4 linked regions of the Homo sapiens genome follow. The protein of the gene in region 1 interacts with the protein of each later gene in a pairwise test. Each region holds a gene or a part of one and is shown in the gene's direction. Other genes may lie near its edges. The genes, in order: SFT2D2, TIMM44, MEP1B and PLIN2.

Region 1 (7,023 bases):
AGTTATTGTTATAGAAGGATGGCGAAGAAAGGCATGGCTGACTGCTCTAGCACCAGTTGTCCTTGGCCAGCCTCAGATGCCCACGGCCTGGACAAGTCTCTTGCAGAAAGAGCTTTCTAAGAATGGCCTTAGGGAAAGTGTTAGGTGATAGGTACACAAGTAACTGGCATGCTGACTGTGAGATTGATATCTCAGGTTAACCTTTGTCCTCACATGTGCTTTCTGCTGCAGAGACTAGCATTTGGTAGGAGTTAAAATAGAAAGATTTGTGTTAAGCTTACTTTAGTGCATTTGAATGAAAAGATGGATGGACGGATGAATGGGTGGGCCTGAAATGTGATTTGTTTGCTGGGCAGAGGTTCTGGGAAAACTTGAAAGTAAAAGAACATCTTATCTATGTGAATCTTTATTGGCTAGTTTGATTTCATGGAGATTTTTAACTATTCTGCCAAATATGGGTGCTCAGGTGGGTTAACTGCTTTGAGATGAAGGATGCATAAGTTTTGTGCATTTGTGAAGAATAACAAGTTTTGAGTTTTTTTTTTCCTGCCATGTTATTGTCATTAATTAATGTTTCCTTTCTTCCTTTAGTTGTGTTTTGCACTTACCCTGTGTTCTGCCTTTTGGGTAAATGTATATTTTAATTTTTCTTAACCATTTTGGCTTTTGCCCCTTGTCTCACACTCTCCTATAACCATATTATTATTTTTCCAGTGGCATAACAAGGGACTTGCACTTATCTTCTGCATTTTGCAGTCTTTGGCATTGACGTGGTAAGTAACCTTTTAAACAATCCCCTCCCACATAGCCCACTGAATAATGTAGCCAAAGGAGATAAAACTCACATATTGTGGGTGGGAGAATTAAGAAAACACAGAAGCTGTTTAATTTAAGGATTCGTAATGATGAAAGTGAAGTCAGGCTCCAGAGCAAATGCCTATCAACCCAGCCCACTGCCAATAGATGGCATTAGTGGTCTTGAGTGGTCACAGGAGGCTCCTTGTTTGCCTGCTGTGGCATTTTTGCTGAACTAATGGTTGATTTTTGAGATGTTACAAATATTATTAAGCCACTCATGTCCGGTAAGTGCAAGGACAACAAAAGTATTATAAGGGATGTTAAAAAGGCTTGTGAGTCCAATAGAGGTTAACAAAAAAGGAAAGTGGTAAGAAAAATAATGAATGTTACATTTGTGATAGAATGAATCATTTAACAGAAGGACAAAGAGTGAACTGTCAGCAGGAGATGAGGAACAGTCACTGACGAAATGGAAAAACGTGTGTCTGTGGGCTGTAGGATCAGCGTATGTGCTCAGAGGCTTGTTGGCTTTTGGTAATTCAGCTGAAGAGTAGGAAATTGTAACTCCAGAGCCAAGTATAGTAAAAGGGCCGCTGGAGACATTTTGGGAAACCATGAGTGGGGCTGTAGGTTCATGGTCCTTTCAAGCCTATACGACCTCAGAGTGAGAGGGGTGGTGGCATAGTTGGAATCTGTAGGTTCCAAGACATTTCTGTAGTTCTTTCAAAGTTTATCAAGGGATGGTATCTGCCAGAACAGTTTCAGTATAGATGTGACTCACCTATTTTTGAAAAAAATGTTTGCTACAGTGTAAAGAAAGGAGGATTGTGGACATTTTAAAGTTCTGAAGAATTGGTTAACTCCTATTTGGTAGAAATGAATCTTGAGACTGTAAGCTTAACTCCCATCCCTCCCTTTAGCAATTTTGGACTTTTGAATAAATATAGTTACAAATTGCCTTTTGGAATTTACTGTGTTGACAAGTAATTGAGCTTCTGTACATGTTAAGTATAAGATATGGAGAAGGATGCTGGTGTTTGTGTTTATGTGTGTGTGTGTGTGTATGTTTTTTTTTTTTTTAAATGACATGCACATTTGAGTGGTAGACTGTTTATATTTTGATTTTTCTTCCAGGGCAGAAATTGGTACCTATATACACACACCTTGCTTTGCTTATAGACTGATTTTGAATCCAGTTTCAGAGGTTCAGCATTCATATGGGTCCAGCTGAATGGTGATATTCCCTTCAACACTCATGTGTTCTGACTGTGTTTGCTTTTCTAAGGGCTAACTTACAGTCTGCCTGACACACAGTGCCTGGTTCTTTAGCATTATGGAGCCTGTTCCTTGTATATGGTTTCCTTCTAAGTGACAGGGCTGAGCTAACTGGAATTTACCAAGATACCTTTGGACGTACTACATTTTCACTCATAGAGTAGTTGGTAGCATTTTTTTCTTCTTCTTTTTTATTCTCTTTTCTCTTCTTTTAAAATTAATAGGAGCAGAGCAGAAAATTTATCCCAATTAGGTAGAAGTTAAATTCTGTTTAGAATTTATAAAATGTTAGGAGTTCAACTGTGCCAGGTATGGGTGGCTCACACTGTAATGCCAAGACTTTGGGAGGCTGAGGTGGGAGGATTGCTTGAAGCCAGGAGTTTGAGACTAGCCTGGACAGTGTAGCAAGACCGGGTCTCTGCAAAAAAACAAACAAACAAACAAAAAAAAACATTAAAAAATTAGCCGGGCATGGTGGCACATACTTGTAGTCCCAGCAATTCTGGAGGCTGAGGCAGGGGGATTGCTTGAGCTTCCTAGACTTGAGCCTAGAAATTCAAGGCTGCAGTGAGCTATGATTGAGCCACTATATTCCAGCAGCCTAGGTGACGAGCACGACCCTGTCTCAAAAAAAAAAATAAATAAATAAATAAAGGAGGGGGGTGCGGTTCAACTGTTCTGGGTTTTATTTGATATTTTTTCAGAATAGAGTTTCTGTGCCATCTGGGTATTTGAAATCTGACTGTTTAAGGTGATTGTTGCTAGTTCAAGGTTATAGCAGTACTGCATTGAGGCCGAGGTCATACGGGTTATCTCCACATGAACCTTTTGCCCTTCTTCTGTGGCTGCCTATCTGTACATGGCCATAGTGTGTGTGTTTGGGTACACGTGCATGCACATGCGTGGGCCTTTGTGTGCACATGCTCATCCCCCAGGCTGAGTATGGGAGAGGGTCTGGATAGATCACTGCAGGTATTCTTACAGCTCAGAAGCCCATTCTGCTGGATAATCTGCTACTCCCTTCATCTCATTTGACCCTTTGTTTTGTTTTTCATTATAGGTACAGCCTTTCCTTCATACCATTTGCAAGGTAAGACTGTGTATTTGGAAATAATGATTTCTGTCATTTTAATTCAGAGTCTGCTTTCAGAGAGTATAGCCTATTTTATTTATCTTTACTGAAGTCTTTTGAGTCAAGTAGACAAATACTATACATCTCATTTATAGATAAGTAAGTTAAAGGTCACCCCACCACCCACTCTAATTATACAACTAATGATGGATATTTACCCAGGTACACTGATTTCCAATGCTGTGAACATTCTACTCTTATATATGGTGCATATATGCACATTATTACTCTTTTAACCCGTAGCTTTGAGTAGGGTTTTTTTTTTTTTTTTTTTTATAAAGGTGAATGTCATTTCATATCACTGAGTAAGATATGGAGGGATCTCAATTCGTGCTTCTTGCAGTATCCCACTGCTGGGAAGGTTTCACAAGAGTTTATAAAGGGAGAGTAAGCAGTACCAGGGCTTCCTAATTAGCAGTGTGACCTCGAGCAGCTCTCTTGACCCCTCTGGCCTCAAAGCATCGATAAGTAGACTGAGTTGGTCTAGATCATCTCCAGAGGCCTCTTTTAGCTCTGAAATTCTAATACTCCATACCTCTTTAAGCACTTTCAGTGACGGACCTCTCAAAATTAGCCGCATGATCTTTGCCTCTGACTTTGTTCTAATGCAACTATTTAACTTCTGTTCTTTTTTTTTTTTTTTTATCATTACCTGTTAATTAAAAACAAGCTTTTTAAAAAAACTGTACTGGGCCAGGTGCAGTGGCTCACGCCTGTAATCCCAGCACTTTGGGAGGCCGAGGCGGGTGGATCCTGCTGTCAGGAGATCGAGACCATCCTGGCTAACACAGTGAAACCCCGTCTCTACTGAAAATACAAAATATTAGCTGGGCGTGGTGGCAGGCGCCTGTAGTCGAAGCTACTTGGGAGGCTGAGGCAGGAGAATGGCGTGAACCCAGGAGGCGGAGCTTGCAGTGAGTCGAGATGGCGCCACTGCACTCCAGCCTGGGCGACAGAGCGAGACTCTGTCTCAAAAAAAAAAAAAAAAAAAGTACTGAGGAAATGAAAAATTATGCATGACTTGGGAAGGAGGAAGAGCAATCTTATGTCTTAACAAATTCCAAGACTGTTGCTGACAGTGATTTGAAAGTATTGAGGAGTGATTGATTGGATGCGAAGTTAAGCCTTTCAAGTGAAAGGCAGCTGAGTGGCTTTGTTGATAGATTCTAGGAGGGTAACAGTTATGAAATACTCCATGCAGACCTGGCTGGTTTTGGGGCCTGGTGGCTTGTCTGAGAAGAATATGGGCAGGGATGTCCTGGGAAGCTAGATTTTTATGTGAAGTAAACCGGAGTTCATCATTACTGAGGATCCAATGAGATATTGATCAACCTGCCAACATATGAATATTTTTTGGTCCCTGAACCAGCTGCATAGTTTTCAGGGCCCAGTGCAAAATAAAAATGTGAGCTTCTTGTTCAAAAATCATAGGCCGGGCACGGTAGCTCAGCCTATAATCCCAGCACATTGGGAGGCTGAGGTGTGCGGATCACGAGGTCAGGAGTTCAAGACCAGCTTGACCAACGTGGTGAACTCCTGTCTTTACTAAAAATACCAAAATTAACCGAGCGTGGTGGCGTGCACCTGTAATCCCAGCTACTCAGGAGGCTGAGGCAGTAGAATCGCTTGAACCTGGGAGGCGGAGGTTGCACTGAGCCGAGATCACGCCATTGCCCTCCAGCCTGGGCAACAGAGGGAGACTCTGTCTCAAAAAAAAAGATTAAGAATTTCAAGATGGCAACATCAAATCAAGGCATTAAACCCAATGTGGACCCTTCTGAGTATGGGGCCAATGCAGTTGCACAGGTCTCATTCGTGAAACTTGCTTGGAGTCATTTGTCAGAGCTTCAGTCTTGATCTGGATTGGCATGTATAAAATTTATGTACAAGTGATTGATAGAATGAGGGAATTTTATTTGAGATAGTGAGTTTCATGTGCTGAGGAGACGAATTACTCCTCTAGTAGGGAGGGAATCACAGAGCTAGATCCCACCCTTCTATTCTTTTTTTTTTTTTTTTTTTTGAGATGGAGTCTCACTCTATGGCCCAGGCTGGAGTGCAGTGGCCCGATGTCAGCTCACCTCAGTCTCCAACCTCCTGGCTTCAAGCTGTTCTCCTGCCTCAGCCTCCATGTGCACGCCACCATGCCAGGCTCATTTTTTGTATTTTTAGTAGAGATGGGGTTTCACCGTGTTGGCCAGGCTGGTCTCGAACTCCTGACCTCAAGTGATTGGCCCACCTCGGCCTCCCAAAGTGCTGGGTTTACAGGTCCGAACCACCATGCCTGGCCCCACCCTTCTATTTGTAAGTTCCCCTGGAATAGCTTTTCCCACAGTGTTCCACAGAAATAGTGTTTCTGTGGAAGAAAAGAGTTCTATGATCAAGTAAGTTTGAGAAACAGGTTAAGCAAAATTAGGTAGGTTCCTCTTTGCCTGGCTTGCTAGATCCTTCCATATGCTATGTGTATTGTGAGCTGCCATGAGGGGGACTTATGTGGCCATAAAACCCTTCTTGTGCAGAGACTCTTCTGAGACTACAGTGCAGAGTATATCTCAAGAAATGCTGCCCTGGAACCATCTTGATATTAAAATGCAGTGCCTACTCATGGAAATGCATCCATTCACCTCTCCCTCCCTTATGTGACTCCCAATGTCCTTAGTGCAGCACAGTTGAGAACGTGGAACAGAGCTGGGGTATGAGAAGCCTAGTGCCACATTGCACAGTGTGGTGTGGTGGTGGAAATGGAAGTGCTTGCTTGGGTAGAATAGTAATTTCTTGAAGACCAACTCTTCCTTGCACCCTCTACACTGAATTCCAAGCAGTAAATACCTGTGATAAGGCCATTATAGCATATTAATAAGTGCTCAGGACCCATAGTGAGCTCCCTTCTGCTGCCTGCTTAGAATGAAGAAAGGTCCCAGTTAATATTTGATTTAATGCTGTCAGTGCATTCTGTGATTTTGACCGATATTAAAGTGCAGCAATCCTGACTGATTTCTTAGTTTCTGACAGTCTATGTTATCTTTTTCTCTGATTATGATGGCTAATCCCATAATCAGACTGTCGGGTAAGTGGGGACATCCCCTCTTACAGATGAGGAATTTGAAACTCAAACAGGACAAGGAACTTTCCCAGGATAGTACTACTAATAAATGTTGAAGCTGCAGTTTGATGCTGTGAAGGTCTGATCTTTCAGTCTAGGTGCTTTCTACTCTGCAGCTTCCACTCTGGGTGCCCTCTAAAGGAGTGCCTTTGGGGTGATGACGTTCCACTCATCTTTGTGTCTTTTCTTTCCTAGGGATGCTGTGAAGAAGTGTTTTGCCGTGTGTCTTGCATAATTCATGGCCAGTTTTATGAAGCTTTGGAAGGCACTATGGACAGAAGCTGGTGGACAGTTTTGTAACTATCTTCGAAACCTCTGTCTTACAGACATGTGCCTTTTATCTTGCAGCAATGTGTTGCTTGTGATTCGAACATTTGAGGGTTACTTTTGGAAGCAACAATACATTCTCGAACCTGAATGTCAGTAGCACAGGATGAGAAGTGGGTTCTGTATCTTGTGGAGTGGAATCTTCCTCATGTACCTGTTTCCTCTCTGGATGTTGTCCCACTGAATTCCCATGAATACAAACCTATTCAGCAACAGCACATAAGCCTTGGGTGCAAGTGATTCCCAGGTGGCAAAAGGCAGCCCCATCAGAGATCACGGGAGCAACAGTAAGGGACAGAGTTTTGGGGTCCACTTGTCCCTCAGCATGGAAGCCATCACCGTGGTCCTGCATAGAGTGAGTCTGCTTCTACTCTGGCATCTGAGAACA
Region 2 (7,972 bases), on another chromosome or scaffold:
CGTGCGCCACCATGCCCGGCTAATTTTTGTTTTTGTTTTTTTGTTTTGTTTTGTTTTGTTTGTAGAGACGCAGTTTCACCATGTTGGCTAGACTGGTCTCGAACTCCTGACCACAGATGATCCGCCCATCTCGGCCTCCCAAAGTGCAGAGATTACAGGTGTGAGCCACCGTGCCCAGCCTCGTATACTATTCTTGCAATTTTTTTTTTGTAGCTTTGAAATTTTGCAAAATAAAAAGTTGGGGAAAACAAAGCACTCTCGCTCCTTCCCATATGTTCTTCCAGCTGCCATCATTTCACCTTCTGTGCACAGTGAATATTCCTGGGAAGAGTCTGTGTTCTGTGTCCCAGTATTCTCAACCACCGCTGTGCTGGTGAAATGTTTAATAACTGGCTCACCAGAGAAACAAACCAACCAAAGAGCTCCTGACTTGGAATGTCTGCCAATTCCTGTGGTGTAAATACTCCCACCACTTGTGGCTGATCTGCTTGTAGGTGATTTCAAGCTACAAAGATGGCATCATCAAACAGAACTGGTACACAATGCAGTGACTCACATAATATAGTATTTCCAGCACGCAGACATCATATATGTAAATAACCCCAAGATAAGCCAGGTGCAGTGGCTCATGCCTGTAACCCCAGCACTTTGGGAGGCCGAGGTGGGAGGATCGAGTGAGCCCAGGGGTTTGAGACCAGCCTAGGCAACATAGCAAGACTCTGTCTCTACAAAAAGATTATTTATTTACTTATTTGAGACAGAGTCTCGCTGTGTCACTCAGGCTAGAATGCAGTGGTGCAATCTTGGCTCACTGCAACCTCTGCCTCCCAGGTTCAAGCAATTCTGCTGCCTCAGCCTCCCTTCTGAGTAGCTGGGATTACAGGCATGCACCACCACATCTGGCTAATTTTTGTATTTTTAATAGAGACGGGGTTTCACCATATTGGCTGGGCTGGTCTCAAACTCCTGGCCTAAAGTGATCCACCCACCTCGGCCTCCCAAAGTGCTGGGATTATAGGTGTGAGCCACTGCACCCAGCCTGTCTCTACAAAAAATTTTAAAAAGTAGCCAGGCTCTGTGGCTTGTGCTGGTCATCCCAGCACTTTGGGAGGTCAAGGTGGGAGGATCGCTTGAGCCCAGGAGTTCGAGATCAGCCCGTGCAACGTAGAGAGACCCTGTCTCTACAAAAAAATACAAAAATCAGCTGGGCGTGATGGTGCATGTCTGTAGTCCCAGCTACTCGGGAGGCTGAGGTGGGAGGATCACTTGAGCCTGGAAGGTCGAGGCTACAGTGAGCCGTGCTGGTGCCACTGCACTCCTATCTGGGCGATAGAGTGAGACTGTCTCAAAACAAAAACAAAAACCCTCAAGAGCACAGATAGTAGTAACATGTAGCAGCATAATTAGGAAGTGATGAATTTTGCATTATTACTTTTGTTCTAATATAATCTATTTGATCTTAAGTTTATACAATTAATTGTTTACATATTGGCCATGTTTAACAAGAGGCTTTGAATTCTTGAAGATGTGCCGGCTGGCTCTTGCGAGTCAGTGCAAGCTGGCCCCAGCATGCCTCTGTAAAACCATCTCCACTCACTGAAATCTGGCTCCCAGGCCCACCACTCACCCAAAACCCCTCTTGCTTATCTCACCAATGACCTCCATATTGCAAAATGCAATGGCGGTGGCTACATTTCTGTCCTTGCCTTGCCTGAACTGTGCAGCACTCGCCTCTGCTGTTTCCATCTGCCTTCTCCAAGTTCCTCCAGATTGTCTTCCTTTTTTTTTTTTTTTTTGATGGAGTCTTGCTCTGTCGCCCAGGCTGGAGTGCAGTGGTGTGATCTCAGCTCACTGTAACCTCCACCTCTTGGGTCCAAGCGATTCTCCTGCCTCAGCTTCCCAAGTAGTTGGGACTACAGGCACTTGCCACCACGCCCGGCTAATTTTTTGTATTTTTAGTAGAGATGGGGGTTCACCATGTTAGCCAGGATGGTCTTGATCCCCTGACCTCATGATTTGCCCATCTCGGCCTCCCACAGTGCTGAGCGCAGTGGCACACGCCTGTAATCCCAGCAATTTGGGAGGCCAAGGCAGGTGGATCACGAGGTCAGGACTCGAGACTAGCACGGCCAAGATGGTGAAACCCCGTCTCTACTAAAAATACAAAAATTATCCGGGTATGGTGGCGGGCGCCTGTAGTCCCAGCTACTCGGGAGGCTGAGGCAGGAGAATGCCATGAACCTGGGAGGTGGAGCTTGCAGTGAGCCGAGATCACGCCACTGCACTCCAGCCTGGGTGACAGACTGAGACTCAGTCTCAAAACAACGACAACAACAAAAAATTGTTTTTTAGAGATGGAGGTCTCGAGGGGGCATGGTGGCTCATGCCTGTAATCCCAGCATTTTGGGAGGCTGAGGTGGGAGGATCACCTGAGGTTCAGGAGTTCGAGACCAGCCTGACCAATATGGAGAAACCCCGTCTCTACTAAGAACACAAAATTAGCTGGGTGTGGTGGCACATGCCTGTAATCCCAGCTACTTGGGAGGCTGAGGCAGGAGAATCACTTGAACCTGGGAAGCAGAGGCTGCGGTGAGCCAAGATCGCGCCATTGCACTCCAGCCTGCGCAACAAGAGTAAAACTCCATCTCAAAAAAAAAAAGGCCGGGTGTGGTGGCTCACGCCTGTAATCCCAGCACTTTGGGAGGCCGAGGCAAGCGGATCACGAGGTCAGGAAATCGAGTCCATCCTGGCTAACATGGTGAAACCCTGTCTCTACTAAAAATACAAAAAATTAGCTGGGTGTGGTGGCAGGCACATGTAGTCCCAGCTACTCGGGAGGCTAAGGCAGGAGAATGGTGTGAACCTGGGAGGCGGAGCTTGCAGTGAGCCAAGATCGTGCCACTGCACTCCAGCCTGGGCGACAGAGTGAGACTCTGTCTCAAAACAACAAAAAAAGAGATGGAGGTCTCATGCTGTCACCCAGGGTGGAGTGCAGTGGGTGATCATAGCTCACTGCAGCCTCTAACTAATGGGCTCAAGAGATCCTCCCACCTCAGCCTCCTAAGTAGCTGGAATTCCAGGCGAGAGACACCATGCTTGGCTTATTTTTTTATTTTTGTAGAGATAGGGTCTCGTTATGTTGCCCAGACTGGTCTGTAACTCCTGGGCTCAAATGATGCTCCTGCCTCAGGCTCCTGAGTTGCTGGGATAATAGGACTGAGCCACGGATCCTGGCTTAAAGGAGTCTTCTATCTCCACTTTATCTTTGGGTCTTTGACATGCTTATATGACACACTGCCTCTGAGTGTCCAATGCTGTAGTTTTCTTTCTTTCCTTTCTCTCTCTCTCTTTCTTTCTTCTTCTTTTTTTTTGACACAAGGTCTCTCTCTGTTGCCCAGGTAGTGTAGTGTAGTGTAGTGTAGTGTAGTGGCACGATCACGGCTCACTACAGCCTTAACTTCCCGGGCCTCAACGATCCTCCCATCTCAGCCTCCTGAGTAGCTGGGACTACAAGCACATGCTACCACGCCAAGCTAATGTTTTGTATTTGTTGTAAAGAAGAGGTCTTCACTATGTTGCCCAGGCTGGTCTCAAACTCTTGGGCTGGAGAGATCCTCCCGCCTCAGTGTCCCAAAGTGCTGGGATTATAGGCATGAGCCACCGCGCCCGGCCAAACTCCGTACTTTCAACCACAACTAAGAATCCATATTTCTAGCCCAGACCTTATTCTTAGCAACACACCTGTGTACACCAACCGCTTAACTAGTTTGCTCCTCTTGGCATCAAGACATCTCGAACAAAGCCAGAGTGGAAGCCCTCATCTCTTACCCCCACCTTGAGGGGGAGCTCCTGAGATGGAGAACACAAGTCTATCCATCGCAGAAGCCAGGAATGCATGCTCTCCGGGGCCAAGCTGCCTCCCTTTGAAATAATGAAGTCCCATAAACCCATATCACAGGTTAGTAATGCAAAAAGACCGGGTGCGGTAGCTCACGCCTGTAATCCCAGTGACTCAGAGGCTGAGGCAGGAGGATCGCTTGAGCTTGGGAATTGGAGGCTGCAGTGAGCTAGATTACGACACTGCACTCTAGCCTGGGTGACAGAGCAAGCCTCTGGCTCTATAAAAAAAAAAAAGGATCCAATAAGACAAACAGCAACAGCAACATACATTAGCTCTCCCAGGGGACCAACCCTCCTCCTCATACCCGGATTGCATGGCCATGTTAAAATACCGCCACCTGGTGGCGGCATTCTTCGAATGGAAAATAGCATCTGGGGTGCTGAAATGACAAAGGCCTGAGCGTCTTCAGATCAGAGTGTCAGTTCACACTGAATCGAAGTAGGACTGGACCACAGTCAGCCCGCTCTCAGCTTCCTCTTCTTATTCGGGGTCAAAACCAACAGGCGTCTTCCCAAAGCGCCGCACAAGAGTGGGCTCCTTCGCTTTCTCGGAGCGACTCACTTGCTGGTCTCTCAGCCATTGTCAATCAATCAGTCATTGCAGGGGCAGCCATAGACAATTACTCTGGAGCTGGTCCGCCGGTCAATCAGAATCCAATCGAATCCGTCCTTGTGGTCGGTGGATCCACGTGCCTGTACCACCTGCCACCAGCGCCCGGCGCGTTCTGTAGCCGAATCACCGCAAGTGACGGAATACACGCCCCTGGGCTCCGCCCCCTCGTAGTCGCGCCCAATCACAGATCTGACCCTCCCAGGAGTGCCCTCCCCCGGGCCACATCCAGTCACGGGCCCCGTCCTTCCAAAACACTGCCCTATCAGAGGTCAAGCTCTCTAGGCATTCCCTACCCTTTTAATGCCCCGCCCTATGACGGACCCAATCGGAGGGCTCTCCCTACCCGAAACCCCGCTCCTGGAGCGGCTTTTCTCAGGCTTGCGCGGCTCTAGGCCGAAGCGGCGGATGACGCAACCGGGCCGCGCCGCGAGAAGGTCACACGATTCTCCAACATGGCGGCGGCGGCCCTGCGGAGTGGCTGGTGCCGCTGTCCACGGGTGAGCGGCGGTGCGGCGCTGGCAGGGCGAGCTTAGGGGTCTTCTGGGCCTTCGGCCACCAAGGCTTTCTTCTCAGACCCTTGGCCTTCGCGACCCTTGCTTGGGCTCCTTAGAAAGCTTGGGGTTAGATCTTTGGGTAGCAGAGGCCAGGACAGGGGGCACAGAGCGTGGCCTGAGGGCGGGGACCGAGCTTACCGGGCAGGGGGCGGCGATGCGCGGGACCTGGGAGGGAGCTGATCACCCTTCGCCCTCTGATCAGACTCCACGTATACAGGAGAGAGAATGGTAGCCGGGGCGGCGGCGTCCCGTGGAAAAAAGTAGAGGGGAAGGCAAAAAAACGTGAAATTCACAGCTCGCGGTTAAATGCCAAGTTCTCTACCGAGAGCATTTCTTGTCTCGTTTCTTCTAACGTTCATTGTGGATGTGCGAGAGGTGGTTCGCGCCCTAGCAGGCTCTTGGGTCCACAGGGCAGTGGCAGTCAAGACGTGTAAGGCGCACTCAGAAAGTAGTACTTCATATTGCTCGTGCTCTTCGTTTTTTCTTTTTTCTCTTTTTTTTTTTTTTTTGAGACAGAGTTTCGCTCTTGTCGCCCAGTCTGGAGTGCAATGGCGCGATCTCGGCTCACTGCAACTTCTGCCTCCTTCTGCCTCCGGGTTCAAGCGATTCTCCTGCCTCAGCCTCAGGTGGATCACCTGAGGTCAGGAGTTCGAGATCCACTGGCCCACATGGTGAAATCCCATCTCTACTAAAACCCCATCTGTACTAAAAATACAAAAAAATTAGCCGGGCATGGTGGCGCGCTCCTGTAATCCCAACTACTTGGGAGGCTGAGGCAGGAGAATCACTTGAACCCGGCAGGCGGAGATTGCAGTGAGCCGAGATCCTGCCACTTTACTCCAGCCTGGGCAACAGAGGGAGACTCCGTCTCAAAAAAAAAAAAAAAAGTTATCCTCAAGTAAATACAGGAGATAGTAGGCACCTGTGTAAGTTTGGGATGTTGCATAGGGTTCTCAGAGGTAGGAGGCAGAGAACAGAGAGAAAAACGGCCCAGGAAATGTGGAAATGGTGGAGAAGTTGTACCTGGTCTTTTGACATCAACACGCCAGGTTCTGTGCTGGGTGACAGGGTGCCGAGCTGAACAGGACCTGCACAGAGCTTTTTTTTTTTCCCCCAATTTTTTATGGAGGCAGGGTCTAGCTATGTTGCCCAGGCTGGTCTCAAACTCCTGAGCTCAAACGATCCTTCCGCCTCAGCCTCCCAAAGTATCGGGATTACAGGCATGAGCCACCAGCTCAGTGCCTGCACAGAACTTAAGGCAAGATCTCGGCTCACTGCACCCTCCACCTCCCGGGTTTAAGCAATACTACAGGTGTGTGGGACTACAGGTGTGTGCCACCACGCCCGGCTAATTTTTGTATTTTTGGTAGAGACGGGATTTCACCATGTTGGCCAGGCTGATCTCGAACTCCTGACCGGGTGATCCTCCCACCTCAGCCTCCCAACGTGTTGGGATTACTGGCGTGAGCCACCGCGCCCAGCCAGCAAGTGCCTTTTACATGAGATCAGCCCAGTCTTTGCCCAGAGCGACTCCCCTAAATTACTCTGTTTATAGCTCAACCCTTGAGGAGGACATTGTAGGTTTATTCCAGAGTTGTCCCTGGGGCAACACATTATCGATGTTTGTGTCTGAAAAATCCAGTTCTCTCATCTTTGGAGGCTGGCAGAAATGGGGTGGGCTCGCAAGAGAAGACTGCTTGCCACTAGCATAGAAGCTTAGAGTGCCTACTTTCAGACTAAGGGATTAAATTGTACATTTAGCCTTCTTCCCCCCATGGGTTGGCATTTCCTGGGACCTGTCCGTTTTCCCCCAGTTTCAGGGGCACGAGGATAGATGTAGGCCCTGGAGGTACAGACACAGCATTTTCTCTTTCCACCAGCTTCTGCTTGCTTCTCAGACTTTGGGAAGATTACAGAGTGCCCGGCATGCATCAGGCATAAGATACAAATTGGCCAGTGAGGCCAGGTGCAGTGGCTCATGCCTGTAATCCCAGCACTTTGGAAAACCGGGGGAGGGGTGGATCACCTGAGGTCAGGAGTTCGAGACCAGCCTGGCCAACATGGCAAAACCGCTTCTCTCCTAAAAATACAAATATTAGCCGGATGTGATGGCGCATACCTGTAATTCCAGCTACTCGGGAGACTGAGGCAGGAGAATCGCTTGAACCCAGGAGGCATAGGTTGCAGGGAGCTGAGATCGCAGCACTGCACTCTAGCCTGAGACTCCGTCTCAAAAAAAAAAAAAAAATGGCCAGTGAGTTGCAGGTGACCCTGCTGTTTTGTGTGTGGTCTGCTTACTTCTCAGTCAACCTCTTGTTAGAATGGATCTTTCTCTTCTCTCCCCCCAATTAGAGATGCCTCGGCAGTGGAATCCAATTTCTTTCCAGCCACAACCTACCCCATGGGTCGACCTATCAGATGCGCCGGCCGGGCGGAGAGCTGCCACTGGTGAGTGACTCAGGATGCTCGGGCCAGCAGACACAGGGGAGGCCCGAAAATTCAGATCCCATTGGCAGGAGGGAGGGGTGGGGCTGTAGAGGTGGCTCGTACCATCTCGGTGGTGGGCCTTCTGTGTCCGGGGCTTTCAGAATGACAGATCCCAGTGTGCCTGGCCTTCTCGGTCCCAGAAACACTTGACCTGCCTCTTGCTTGATGTCGTAAGGGGATAAGGTGCTGTCAGAATAGCCCTTTATGTTGGCTCTAATGCTTGGAAGAGACCCCTGTATTGAACTGAATTCTACTTCCCTGTGACCTCTGCCCGTGGGTACCTCACCAAGCATAGCTGTTTCCTTTTCTAGAAGATAGCCCTTTGATCATTGGTACAGAGTCACCTTGTCACAACCAGACCTCAGTTTCTCCTGGTCATTCCTCTTCAACTGTGCTTCTGTTGGTGTCTCAGCATCGT
Region 3 (7,023 bases), on another chromosome or scaffold:
GTGTGGTTCAAGCCACCATAACTCATTACATATGTCTTAGTCTTATTGATTTGATTGATTTTCATTATTGGAGCAATATGACATTTGATTTTAAAATAGGACCTCACAGATTCAATCTAGTGGAGGCAAAATTAAACTGAATTTGTAAACATCTTCAATGAATCAGGCTTTTTACCCCAATAAATAGATTTTGTGACTTCTACCCTGGCCTTAGCTAAAAATAATGTTGCCAAGTTAAGACCCTCCCAAACCTATTCATAAAGAGTGCTGATTCTCATCTAAGTCATCATGCCACACAGATAAACACAAGAACCTTGCAGGTAGATTAGGGGGACTAAAAAGTTCACTATCATGAAAGCACTGTTTTTTTCAGTGTTCTCTCACAGCATGGAAATAAGCACTATTTTTCAAAAGACAAGATATAGTTTATTGCCCACTAGATTGAAAAATATTAAGAAACTTACTACTTACTATCCCTTTTGGTGATGATAGAGAGAAACTAGGATGCTTGTTTAGGAATGTGTTTAGAACATGTTATTATACTGGAGAGTGTATAAATTTGAAAAAAAGAAAGAAGGCAATTTGAGAAGAGCTAGCATAGTTTAAAATATATACACCATGTGGCCTAGAAATTACCCAGTAGATCTTTTCCTGTAAAATTCTGCTCTTCCTTCCAACACAGTCCTAAGTCACTCCCTTACTTCCTATATCGTAAGCACCAACATCCCTCACAGTCCTCCCACCCCCAGGAAACAGAGCTGCAGTCTCCCAGGCTTAGTCCTGAGCCTACTCTTCTATCTGTGCTCTCTCTTGATCTCACCTTCGTCCAGGGATTCAAATGTCATCTCCATGCCAATGAATCCAAAGGCATATCTCTGGTCCTCTCCTTTCCCTGAGCTCCAGACTGGTCTATCCAAGCACTAATTTGCCAGCTCCACTTGAATGTCTACAAGACGTCTCAAACCTAAGGTGTCCTCTGATCAGGTGAACTCTGACCTTCCCCCCAAACTGTTCCTCCCCACTCTCCTGTCTTCATAAAGTCATCCTCACAACCTGACTCTACTCAACTGAACACATAAAAACCTTGAGCGCCACCTTTGCTTCTCCTCTCTCCTTCACTCCCCATCCAGCCCGTCAGCAAGTTCTATCATTTCTAGCTCTAACATACACTGCAAATCGTCCACTTTTCTCCATCACTCTAATTCAGGCCCCATCATCTCTTGCCTGGCTTTTTCCATTAGCCTCCTAATTTGTCTTTCTATTTCAGATATTGTTCCCCTATAATCTTTTCCACCCTGTTACTTGTCCTTATCTCTCACAGCAAAGTCATTTTTCAAACAGGCAGTGACTTCATTTCACCTCCTGGCTTGAAACTCTTCCATAGTTGCCTATGGGTTTAGAATCATCTCCCGATTTAGTCCCAGCTGTCTAAGCCTAGCATGCCTTAGCTCCTGCTTCTGTCCTCCCCTCTTCCCTCCCCTCTCCTCTCTTTTCCTCTCCTCTTATCTCATCCACGTTCTCTCTTAGACTCATCAGGCTACTGGTCTCAACACATATTCAAAACATCCCAGGCATATTCCCACCTCAGAACAAGAACAACTAATGTTCCCTCTGCCTGAAACCACCTTCCCAGGACCCCTTTCAATGCTGGCTCTGTCTTGCGATCCCTATTTCCCCTTAAATATCATCCCTTCATAGACGACTGTCCTGATCACTCCATCTCATGTACTCCGTCATCCCTGTGCCCTTGTTCACATCTCTCTTTCTAATTTCCTCCCTATTGCATTCATCCTGCTTAAACATTTTTTTTTTTACATACTCTTTCTGTCCTCCACTAGATATAAGCTCCATGAAGCCAGAGACCTTTATTACCAAGGAATCTCTATTCTCTAGGACAATATTCAATTTGTGGACTGAGTAAATACATTAGTAAAATATTACTCATTTTCTATTATACAGTTTAAAATCCTTTAAAAATTTTTGAAAACTTTGGCCCAGCTCATGTGTGACTTTTTCTGATATTGTGAGATCCAGATTATCAAGGTCTTGCTATCACTGTTTTCTTGCAAATTTTTAATCTTTAAGTGTAGGAAACTAACCTATAAATCTACCAATATTTGTAGTTCAGTTTTCCAACAGTTATTTTTTGCATTATTCCTTCTTCAACTGTATTAACAAAATGATAGAAATTAGTAATTTCTTCCTAGAAACTTTGTTATATTATGATAAAAGTAGGGCTACACACACACACACACACACACACACAATTTGTTTGTGCGAACTGGGAGAGCTTTAAACTTCATTTATTTCTAGATTAACTACAGGTTTCCTAAGTGTTTGCCTTATTTGTTTAACTAGCCCTTTTGCATTTATTTTTGACAGGCACAAATTAGAAATTCCATCATTGGAGAAAAGTATAGATGGCCTCATACCATTCCATATGTTCTAGAAGATAGCTTGGGTTAGTATGCACCTTGAAGTATCCATAACTAATGTCTATTTCTGACAAAATATGATTATAGTGTTTCAAAGGGTGGGCTTATATAGTCTTTAAGGTTTTGTTTGGTTTGCTCCTTTGTGTGGCTATGTACATTTACTTTGAAAAAAAAAATAAGCAAAACGAACAATGAAAGTAACCTAAATGACTCTGTCTGAAATATTTACAGTGTCTTGACCAACAAAGCAATGAGTTCAACCAACGTTTATGGAGAGCCTACTCTGTTATGCTAGGGACATAACGATTAGGGAGCCAGTCTTTTTTTGTGGGGGAGGGGCTCTGCATCATATATTCATTGAACCAGTGCAAAAACATCTTTTGGAGAGCAGACAGGCCAGGCCAGGGTCCCAGGAGGATGCTCTGCTGGGGGTGCAGTGAGGGTGAAACATGGAAGAAGAGGGCCTTGCTTCCTCTTCCCATGGCAGGTATGCTCCTTTCTCCTAGAGTCTGGATCCCTGGTGAGTGAGGCCACTGACTGACTGTCCATCTGCCTGTCCCTCTCTATCCCTGCAAGTTCGGGGAAGAAGGGTCATTGGCAGCCCGGGGCTGGGAACCCAGGTCCTCTGGTGCCCCCGCTGGCTCGGGCTCGGTGGCCTTGGGCTCCTTGGCCTCATCCCTGTTTCTGCTGGCCTTCTGGAGCTGGTGTCACTGCGCCACCTCGGCTTTCAGACTCTCCAAGTCTTTTTGGCTGAGAGGAATGAAGAGGATGCCATTGATGCCTTTGAACTGCTCCAAGACGCTGGCCATGCTGGGGGCTGTGAAGTTGAGGGGCGGGATGTTGTTGCTGGAGCCGTTGCGGTAGATCTCATGCATGGCGCGCCGCAGGGCCACGGCCAGCTGGGTCAGGCACTTGAGGTACTCAGAGCTCTCCTTGGTCTTCTCCTGGTCCTCGCCCAGCTGGGTCTTACAGAGGGTGTGCAGCCAGCCCTTCCTTCTGGTGCTGCAGGGCCGACCGGAAACTCAGCTTTGCTCTCATAGACCGAGGTGATGAGGTGGTGGCCAAGGGCCACCTTGAGAGCTTTGGGCCCTTGGTACTTGGTGCTGACGGCCAGCGCGTTGTCCAGGAAGCACAGCGACAGGTCGTACTCCATCACCCTGTGCAGCACCCGCCTGATGTTGTCCAGCACGCCACCTCGGGGTGTCTTCCCCAAGCACCAGCGCATGAGGTAGTGGGCGCCCTGCAGCAGGCTGAGGGCCAGGGACAGCTGCCTGCTGGTGAAGCAGTGCAGGGCCAGGTGCATGTTTTCCTGGATGGTGTTGGGGTGCTCGATGCCCATCACCCGCACGCTCATCAGCACTGCCTTCTGCTGGCTTCTCAGGGCCTCTGCGTACTTGCCCATGATGTAGTGGAGGCGGGCAAGGAGGCGCAGGCAGGCTCAGATCTCCACGTGCACTGCTCCCTACACTTGGTTAAACAGGTGCAGGGCCTGATTGATGGGCTCACAGGGAGCCAGTCTTTATTTTAAAGCAGTGGTTTACCCTATGATCAATTATACATATGAGAAAATACATAAAATAACCAACTAAATTTGAGGAACTGGCATTGTTTTATCAACATTTTATTTTGCCAGGTCAGGAACTTAAACAACAACCTAACATGATAAAAGAGCTTTCATCATCCTCTTTTCATACAGTAAATAATGTTATTAGTGTAGTATTAAAATGTTAAAAAGTCAGAAGAATCAAATCCAAAACTAAGAACAGCTTTTCTATAGAAGAAATTTAAATATGTTGGAAAACTCTAAACATGGTCTTCATTTTAATCTATGGACTAGTGGCAATGATGCCACTGACCAGCATTAGCTTAGAAATTGCTGTTTGGGAAAAGTTTGAGTAAAAACCCTGCTATAGTTTTTTAATTTTTAATTTTATTTTTCATTTTTGTTTTTTTTTTTTTGTTTTGAGACAGAGTCTTGCTCTGGAATGCAGTGGCACAATCTCAGGCTGGAGTGCAGTGGCATAATCTCGGCTCACTGCAGCTTCTACCTCCCAGGTTTTGGCGATTCTCCTGCCTCAGCTTCCCGAGTAGCTGAGATTATAGGCATGTGCTAGCACACCTGGCTAATTTTTGTATTTTTAGTAGAGATGGGCTTTCACCATGTCGTACAGGCTGGTCTCGAATTCCTGGCCTCAAGTGATCTGCCTGCCTTGGCTTCCCAAAGTGCTGGGATTACAGGTATGAGCCACTGCACCCAGCCTGTTATAGTTTTTTAAAATTTCAACTTTTATTTTAGATTCAGTGGGTACGTGTGCAGGTTTGTTACATGGGTGTGTTGCATGATGCTGAAGTTAGGGGTACAAATGAACCCATCACCCAGGAGTTGAGCATAGCACCCAATAGGTGGCTTCTTCAACCCTTTTCTCCCTCCCTTTCCCCTCTTGTAGTCCCCAGTGTCTTTTGTTCTCATCTTTACATCCATGTCTATGCAATATTTAGCTCCCACTTATGGGAAAACATATGGTATTTGGAAACCCTGCTATTTTTCTTAAAGATCATGCATTTCAGTGGAGACTCACATAAATCAAAAGTGAATTATGATAGAATGGAATAAACATTATGATTAGTGATGTGTTCAAAGAGCTATGGGAGCACATTGGAGGGGCAGTAAACTCAACCTGGATAGAAAAGCATATGCATTATAAGCAGAGGACGCTATATAGCAGGACTGCCATGAAGACTGTGTAAGTTGTACACCGTACAACTGACATGACCTCCTGGAGCTGGTGCTGCCATGCCACCTCAGCTTTCAGATTCTCCAAGACTTTTTGACTGAGAGAAATGAATGAAGAATGCCATTAATGATGTAGAGCTGCTTCAAGAGGCTGCTCTCAGGTGGCTGGGCCAGGAAACAAGTGGAGCTGATACCAGGTTTACGTTCTTTCTGTTCACCAGGAGGCATTTGTTTCTTTGTGTGAAAGTGCTGTTCACCCATCTGGCCAGCCAGCAACTGCAGCACCTGCTCAGAGGTAGTGCCTCTTCCTAATTGGCACACAGGCACCATGTGGGCTAGTGTGGCCTCTGATAGCAAGGGAAGGGTGCTTTAGCCAGATGCATCACGATCTGCTAAGTCCTGAAGAAGGGAGAAAATCCTGAGCTGGAATTTAGATTGAGAGTGGGGAGCTAGGAAGTTGAGCAGGTAGGCGGAACGCAAATGGGGAAGGACTTGGGTCTTCCCGGTGTTAAAGAACTTGTCGTGTATACTAATAACATGGGGCCACCAAAAGTATTATTGTGGAAGTGAGATTGTTAAAATTGCAGTTTAAAATAATCACTTGGGTTGAAGTATAGAAGATGTGTCATTAGTGGGGTAAAAAGAAGATAGGGAGACCAGTTAGAAAACTACTGAGGAAATTCAGAGAAAGAATTAAGAGATTCCTAACCAAGATAAATCTAAAAGCTATTTGGGATGCATTTGTTAGATTTAGTGATTGACTGTAAGAGGTCAAGAAGAAGGTGGGTGTAGAGAAAGAGATTCTAGTGCTCAGGATTCAGTCCTGGGTAGCTGAGGGCATGGTAACGTCTTCAACAAGAATGGAGAATTTAACCTTGAGGAGCATGAGACAGAGAAGCATGGTGGAAATTAGTTTTTGGCATGCAGAATTTGAAATGCATCAGAGTCACTGTGGTGGAGATACCAAATAAATTCTTGGTATATGACCTGGTCATTCAAGGTCGAGAAATGTTTGGGAGTTATTAGGATGTAAGAGATGGTTGAAGCCGTGAGTATGGATGAGCATTTCACACAGTGCCTTGCATAGAGCAGGTGCTCCATAGATAACTGGATTTTATTGATTTATCCTGGAAGGTTGTGTTGAATAAGTAAGAAGATGGTCGAGAATGAAACTCAGTGCCATTTTTTGGAACTGGTATAGAAGGAAGATCTAGTGGAAGTTATTGAGAAGGGGGAATTGGCCAGAAACATAGATAAAAAACTAACAGTAGGGTAGGGAAAGCCAGGGCAGGAGTAGTTAGCGGGGTTGGAAGCCATAAAGAGCACAGGGGGCATGAGGAGAGAAAGATGTTCATTGACTTTTGGAATTAGGAACCTGAAAGATTTTGAATATACATGTTTTTTTGGTTTAGTCTTTTGATTAAAAAATTTTTAAGTTCTTTTGTTTTAATTCTTCCTTTTTTTCCTTTCGTTCGTTCCTTCCTTCCTTCCTTCCTTCCTTCCTTCCTTCCTTCCTTCTTTCTTTTTTGAGACGAGTTCTCACTCTATCACCCAGGCTTCAACCTCTGCCTCCCAGGCTCAAATGATCCTCCCACCTCAGCCTTCCAAGTATCTGGGACCACAGATGCATGCCACCATGTCCAGCTAATTTTTTGTATTTTTGGTAGAGATGGGGTTTCACCAGGCAATCCACCCACCTCGGCCTCCCGAAGTGTTGGGATTACAGGCGTGAGCCACCACATCCAGTTATATTTCTTTTTTTAAAAAACTTATTCTCCTAAGTATGTTCCATGAAAGATTAGGGAGCTTTAATTTTATATATATCTTAGGCTATTTTTTTTTTGCCATGTATTT
Region 4 (7,023 bases), on another chromosome or scaffold:
GCCATTCCAACTCTGCTACTTCCTAAATGAATTTGGTACTAGTACTTGGTTTGGTATTCTTAGTGGGAAGCTCACACTAAAATCTCCCTTGTTAGGGAGATCCAGGGTGGTCTTGGCATACTCTTTCCTCCTGAGGACCCCAAATACACTGACCTGTGCTGAAGTAAGCGTAGGTAGGGATTAAACTAGCATGGGAATGCCGATTTTGAGAGAGTTTCCAGATACCTTATTCTCTGAATGACAGTTCAGGGAAAGCCCGGCTACTCTTGGCATTAACATTAGGGGCCAGTTGATAAGGAAGAAGCTTCAGAGCCAGCTTCCTGTTTGGCCTGTCACTGCCTCTGCCTGCTCCTCCCTCACACCCCCATATTTCCTTACCTTTAGAAGAGAGTTGCCAGCAACTTGCCAGGCCTCTTCCTGTCAGAACTAGATAAACCAGGCAATGCCTTCTGTTGTATAAGATCAACATTCTTGCCTTTTTTTTTTTTTTTGAGATGGAGTCTTGCTCTGTCACCCAGGCTGGAGTGCAATGATGCATCTTGGCTCACTGGAACCCCTGCTTCCTGAGTTCAAGCGATTCTCCTGCCTCAGCCTCCTGAGTAGCTGGGACTACAGGCGCACACCATCACGCCCAGCTAATTTTTGTATTTTTAGTAGAGACGGGGTTTCACCATGTTGGCCAGGATGGTCTCGATCTCTTGACCTCGTGATCCGCCTGCCTCAGCCTCCCAAAGTGCTGGGATTACAGGCGTGAGCCACCGTGCCCAGCCCATTATTGCCATTTTTTATAAGGCCTATGGTAATGTGTGTTCATTCTATACCTATAGTACTACATTAACATTTTCCCATTTGTGATTCTAGTTGCAGTTGCCAATACCTATGCCTGTAAGGGGCTAGACAGGATTGAGGAGAGACTGCCTATTCTGAATCAGCCATCAACTCAGGTGAGCTTGGGACAAAAGTGCTGAGACTTGACACTTCACATGTTTTCATCTTCTATCTGTTAAAACAAGCTGTACATATCACAAACAGGCAAATACTTGTTTTCCCAACCTGGATCTGGATGTATGTTTGAAAAATAATGGCCACTTCCTTACTTCCTGAACTGTTGTCAAGTTGTATCTACGAAGCAGAGAAGAACTAGCCTCCTTTGGATTAGAAAACTTTTAGTGTGTTGTCTATCAGTTTGTGTCTTTGCTCCTATAAATGAAATTGCTGTCTCAAGTAACTGATTGTCTTGTGGTATTAAATAAATGCAGACGTGATATATATAACCTTTTCTCACCTGGCTTGTACAATGCTGCCAGGAACTACCATCCATATGGGATAGCTAGCCAGTGTTGACAAAAATGATAGGCTTGTCTGTCCTGGTGATCCTTTGGTTCAGATAATGTCCTAAAATTTTGTTTCAAATTAAGAATACAGAATGGCACAAAAGGATACCAGTTAGGGAAAAATATAGCTCTGTGTCTTTTCATAATCTAAATACAGTCATCTGTCACTTAGTGATGGGAATATATTTTGAGAAATGCACATTAGGTGATTTTGCCATTGTGTGAACATCACAGAGTATACTCACACCAACCTAGATGGTAGAGCCCAGTGGTCCCCAAGCTTTATGGCACCAGGAACTGGTTCCATGGAAGACAGTTTTTCCATGGACCAGCAGGGGGTGGGTGGTGTTTTTGGGATGATTCAAGTGCACTATATTTATCATTAGATTCTCATAAGGAGCATGCACGTGCACAGTTCACAAGAGGGTTAGGGTTAGGTCTCCTATGAGAATCTAATGCCGCCTCTGACTGGTAATGGACTGGTAATGGACTGGTAATGGTCCATGGCCCGGGGGTTAGGGACTTGTGGTGTAGCCTGCTATATACCTAGGCTATATGGTGTATAGCCTGCTATATACCTAGGCTATATGGTGTATAGCCTGCTATATACCTAGGCTATATGGTGTATAGCCTGCTATATACCTAGGCTATATGGTGTATAGCCTGCTATATACCTAGGCTATATGGTATATAGCCTGTTGCTTGCTTCTAGGCTACAAACCTGCACAGCATGACTACACTGACTACTGTAACACAATGATAAGTATTCGTGTATCTAAACTAGAAAAGGTACAGTGAAAAAAAAAAGTATACCTGTTATAGGGCAGTTCATTATAATCTTATGGGACTATCATTGAATAGTGGTCCATCGCTGACCAAAATATTATGTGGTACACAACTATAGGTAGGTTTAGTGTATAGCCTTTAGAATGCTTGTGCAAATCTTTTAAATTTTTCACTTACATTGCTTGAGACTGTGCTAATGGTGAGAGTTATTTTCCATTTCGGATATTTTCTTTAAATGTTGGTAACTTGTGTTCTTTTTTTTTTTTTTTTTTTTTTTTTTGAGACAGAGTCTTGCTCTGTCACCCAGGCTGGAGTGCAGTGGCACAATCTCGGCTCACTGCTGTCTCTTCCTCCTGGGTTCAAGCAATTGTCCTGCTTCAGCCTCCCCAGTAGCTGGGTTCACAGGCACGCCCCGCCACACCCAGCTAATTTTTTTTGTCATTGTTTGTTTGTTTTTGAGACAGAGTTTTGCTCTTGTTGCCCAGGCTGTAGTGTAATGGTGCAATTTTGGCTCACTGCAACCTCCACCTCTGGGGTTCAAGTGATTCTTCTGCCTCAGTCTCCCAAGTAGCTGGGGTTACAGGCATGTGCCACCACGCCCAACTAATTTTTTGTATTTAGTAGAGACGGGGTTTCACCATGTTGGTGAGGCTGGTCTCGAACTCCTAACCTCAGGTGATCCAACCAACTCAGCTTTGCAAAGTGCTGGCATTACAGGCATGAGCCACCATGCCCTGCCATGTATAATAACTGCATACTAATAACACCCCGAGGGCCAGGTATAGTTTGATCTTCAGTTTCCTCTCTGGATTTGTGTGACTTTGGAATAAGCTATATAACTTACCTTCTTTTCTTTTCTTTTTTTTTCTTTTCTCTTCTCTTTTTTTTTTTTTTTTTTTGAGACAGGGTCTTGCTCTGTCACCCAGGCTGAGTGCAGTGGCACAATCACAGCTCACTGCAGCCTTGGCAAACAGACAAATTTCATATCTGTTTACTTCATTTGCTCCTCCTGCAATTCCCAAGGATTGGCAGGTAGGGCAGATATACTTGATAGGGAAATTCAGGCTCATCAACTCTTAGTGACTTGCCCAAGACCTAAAGCTAGAGTGAGAGGACTAGATTCCTTCTTTAACTCTTCAGCTGTGCTGCCTTAGTTAAGACCTTAGGTATGTCCTTGTGCTCATTTTTCTCACCAGCCAGGGGATCTGCTTTTCTACTTACAGATTGTTGCCAATGCCAAAGGCGCTGTGACTGGGGCAAAAGATGCTGTGACGACTACTGTGACTGGGGCCAAGGATTCTGTGGCCAGCACGATCACAGGGGTGATGGACAAGACCAAAGGGGCAGTGACTGGCAGTGTGGAGAAGACCAAGTCTGTGGTCAGTGGCAGCATTAACACAGTCTTGGGGAGTCGGATGATGCAGCTCGTGAGCAGTGGCGTAGAAAATGCACTCACCAAATCAGAGCTGTTGGTAGAACAGTACCTCCCTCTCACTGAGGAAGAACTAGGTAACTGGAATTTTATCTTGAAATACTGTTTTATATTAAATCTTTCTTAAACAGCTTCATTGACATATACTCTCATCTTGAGTCTAAATTTACACAGTTGTGCAAGCATCACTGCAATCCAGTTTCAGAACACTTCTGCTACCCCAAAAGATCCTCATGCCTGTTTGCAGTCAGTCCTTTTTAATTTAATTTAATTTTATAGAGATGGGATCTCACTATGTTGCCCAGGCTGATCTCGAACTCCTGGGCTCAAACGATCCACCTGCCTTGACCTCCCAAAGTTCTGGGATTACAGATGTGAGCAACCACTAATCTTTTTGCCTCTATAGATTTTCCTTCCTAAAGCAATCATAAAGTTCACATTGAATCGTACGTAGTAAGTTTTGAAACCTTAGCAAAAATTGGCCTTGAAAAATATTTTCTGTAAATGGATAGTCTTTAATGGATTGCTTTATAAAATCCTCCTTACAAAGAATCATCATTAGGTAATGTGTGCCAGGTACCATGCCGCTCAAGTTCACTCTAGGCTGGGAGCAATGGTGCATGCATGCCTACAATCCCAGCACTTTGGGAGGCTAAGACAGGCAGATCGCTTGAGTTCAGGAGTTTGAGATTAGCCTGGGCAACATGGCGAAACCCTAAAAAACACAAAAATTAGCTGGGCATGGTGGCTTGTTCCTAGAGTCCTAGCTACTCGGGAGGCTGAGGTGAGAGGATCAGTTGAGCTCGGGAGGTTGAGGCTGCAGTGAGCCAAAATTGTGCCACTGTACTCCAGCCTGGGCAACAAAGCAAGACCTGTTTCCAAAAAAAAAAAAGCAGTTTACTCTAGTGGGAGAAACGTGTAGATGCATGCAGTGTGTATCAGATACAGTAATATGTTCAGGGTAGTCAAGTCCAGCAGCAGACGTGAGCAGTCTTGGAAAAATGACTGCATGATTGCTAAGTGATTGGGTAGAAGTAAGAAAGTCAAGACCCAGGTTAGAGTCCAGGCCTTATCACTTGTCACTGTGATCCCTTAAGTTTTTTTGTCTCTTATTTCTAACTTCAGAAAAAGAAGCAAAAAAAGTTGAAGGATTTGATCTGGTTCAGAAGCCAAGTTATTATGTTAGACTGGGATCCCTGTCTACCAAGCTTCACTCCCGTGCCTACCAGCAGGCTCTCAGCAGGGTTAAAGAAGCTAAGCAAAAAAGCCAACAGACCATTTCTCAGCTCCATTCTACTGTTCACCTGGTGAGTAAAACTTTATTTTAAGGTGTCTGAAGTGGGTTCATTTATCTCTAGGCCCAAGAATTAAATGTAATCACAAAATCCAAGAATTTCATTCTTAGTTGACAAACAACCCAATAGAAAACTGGACAAAGAATATGGAGACAGCTCACAGAAAAAGGAAGTATAACTAGTTGAAATATAGGAAGCAATGCTAATCTCGCTCTGAGGGGTCAAATACTGACATCTCTCTTGTCCTGCCACACGGGAAATGTGGCTGTTGGCAACGGTGTAGAGAAAGAACCACACTTGTGCAGCTCTTGCTCTAAGGGACTGATTCAAGAGACAGTTTTAGTAAAGTTACAAGCATACCTACACTTGGAGCTGTTTTACTTTTTATCTTACAGATGTGTATATTTGTTTAAAGTTGCAAGAGACTATAACAATGCACATCCACTAACAGGACTAATTAAATTGATATATCACAATAGACTACTGTGTAGCCATTAAAGGTTTCCAAGTTAAAGAACAGTATGTACCATTCTGTACTGCCATGAGAAAACCATTTCTTCTTAGAAGGGGAAATAGTGGTTGGCAACAGGGAAGAGGAAGGTCAAATTCCTTTCTGTTTTGTAATGCTAACTTATCCTTTACTCATGTACACATTAAATTTTAGTTGCTGGCTGGGCGTGGTGGCTCATGCCTATAATCCCAGCACTTTAGGAGGGCAAGGTGGTTGGATCACCTGAGGTCAGGAGTTCGAGACCAGTCTGGCCAACAAGGTGAAATCCTGTCTCTACTAAAAATACAAAAATTAGCTGGGCATGGTGGCGTATGCCTGTAATCCCAGCTACTCGGTAGGCTAAGGCACGAGAAGGAGGTTCAGTGAGCTGTGATCGCGCCACTGTACTTCAGCCTGGGTGACAGAGTGACACTCAAAAAAAATTTTTTGTAGTTTTTTAGTTGCTTTACCTGTGCTAAACTGGAAGTAAATGTGGAGTCAGTGATTTAATAGTTAAATAGAGGCAGTAAAGAGCTACTACTGCTTGGTTAATTTACACATATTGATAATAAATAATAATGATAGCAGGAATAGATCTTATTCAACTCCAGGAAATTCTTAGTTTTTATGTTGCCTGATTTACATCATACATCTGCAAACAGGCTAACGTGAATATCTGACTTGTGTGTTCCTTTGTCTTGTTTCAATGTGTCTAGATTGAATTTGCCAGGAAGAATGTGTATAGTGCCAATCAGAAAATTCAGGATGCTCAGGATAAGCTCTACCTCTCATGGGTAGAGTGGAAAAGGAGCATTGGATATGATGATACTGATGAGTCCCACTGTGCTGAGGTAAGATGACTGGGACGGTCATTTGTTGGTTGCTGAAGAAGTTCTTATCAGACTTTTCATTTCAATTTTTCCATACTATGTCTTAGAATACTCTTCTCTATCAAAAGGTTGAACAATACCATGTACATAGGTGGCTAGTTATGTGGCAGAAAAGCAAAACTAGGCAGCGAATAATTTTATCTAACAACCTATGAGTATACATATGCCCCAAGTGAGATACAACTAAATGAGAAACACAGGCCTTGCCCTCATAATGGGTACAGACTAACAGGGGATACAGCCAGCCATGCTGTCCTATTTTGTGCCTTTTTAATGCTCCTTGCAGAAGAGGGCTATCTCATAGGCAGTACACTCAGAGTAGCCAAGTCCGGTTGTTGTTTAACGGCATAAATACAGGTACTATTGGCTGGGCGCGATGGCTCACGCCTGTAATCCCAACACTTTGGGAGGCCGAGGCGGGTAGATCACGAGGTCAGGAGATCGAGACCATCCTGGCCAACATGGTGAAACCCTGTCTCTACTAAAAATACAAAAAATGAGCCAGGCATGGTGGCACGTGCCTGTAGTCCCAGCTACTCGGGCAGCTGAGGCAGGAGAATAGCTTGAACCTGGGAGGCAGAGGTTGCCATGAGCCGAGATCATGCTACTGCACTCCAGCCTGGGCAACAGAGTAAGACTCTGTCTCAAAAAAAAAAAAAAGAAAACATATGGGAAGACTATCTCAGGCAGCCTTGGAGTGGGGGTAGTTGAGTCACATTGCTTTCTGGAAGAGATGAATGGTAAGCTGAGAACTAATGGGTGAATAAACTAGGTGAAAGGGCAATAAGGTGACCAA

Evidence for each region.
Region 2: the proteins of SFT2D2 (region 1) and TIMM44 interact in binary tests that used the Homo sapiens proteins (3 or more experiments, as listed by UniProt).
Region 3: the proteins of SFT2D2 (region 1) and MEP1B interact in a protein complementation assay, tested with the Homo sapiens proteins (one study listed by IntAct).
Region 4: the proteins of SFT2D2 (region 1) and PLIN2 interact in binary tests that used the Homo sapiens proteins (3 or more experiments, as listed by UniProt).

The regions. Positions count from the first base shown.
Region 1 is NC_000001.11:168,235,998-168,243,020, forward strand, and holds part of SFT2D2 (vesicle transport protein SFT2B), read left to right. Parts: intron 1-591; coding exon 592-627; intron 628-714; coding exon 715-773; intron 774-3,133; coding exon 3,134-3,163; intron 3,164-6,503; coding exon 6,504-6,543; 3' UTR 6,544-7,023. UniProt on the Homo sapiens protein: May be involved in fusion of retrograde transport vesicles derived from an endocytic compartment with the Golgi complex.
Region 2 is NC_000019.10:7,940,645-7,948,616, reverse strand, and holds the start of TIMM44 (mitochondrial import inner membrane translocase subunit TIM44), read left to right. Parts: upstream 1-4,950; 5' UTR 4,951-4,965; coding exon 4,966-5,010; intron 5,011-7,419; coding exon 7,420-7,515; intron 7,516-7,972. UniProt on the Homo sapiens protein: Essential component of the PAM complex, a complex required for the translocation of transit peptide-containing proteins from the inner membrane into the mitochondrial matrix in an ATP-dependent manner.
Region 3 is NC_000018.10:32,193,025-32,200,047, forward strand, and holds part of MEP1B (meprin A subunit beta isoform 1 precursor), read left to right. Parts: intron 1-2,382; coding exon 2,383-2,461; intron 2,462-2,802; exon of another isoform or gene 2,803-3,943; intron 3,944-7,023. UniProt on the Homo sapiens protein: Membrane metallopeptidase that sheds many membrane-bound proteins. Exhibits a strong preference for acidic amino acids at the P1' position. Known substrates include: FGF19, VGFA, IL1B, IL18, procollagen I and III, E-cadherin, KLK7, gastrin, ADAM10, tenascin-C.
Region 4 is NC_000009.12:19,117,486-19,124,508, reverse strand, and holds part of PLIN2 (perilipin-2), read left to right. Parts: intron 1-861; coding exon 862-944; intron 945-3,343; coding exon 3,344-3,629; intron 3,630-4,677; coding exon 4,678-4,859; intron 4,860-6,053; coding exon 6,054-6,188; intron 6,189-7,023. UniProt on the Homo sapiens protein: Structural component of lipid droplets, which is required for the formation and maintenance of lipid storage droplets.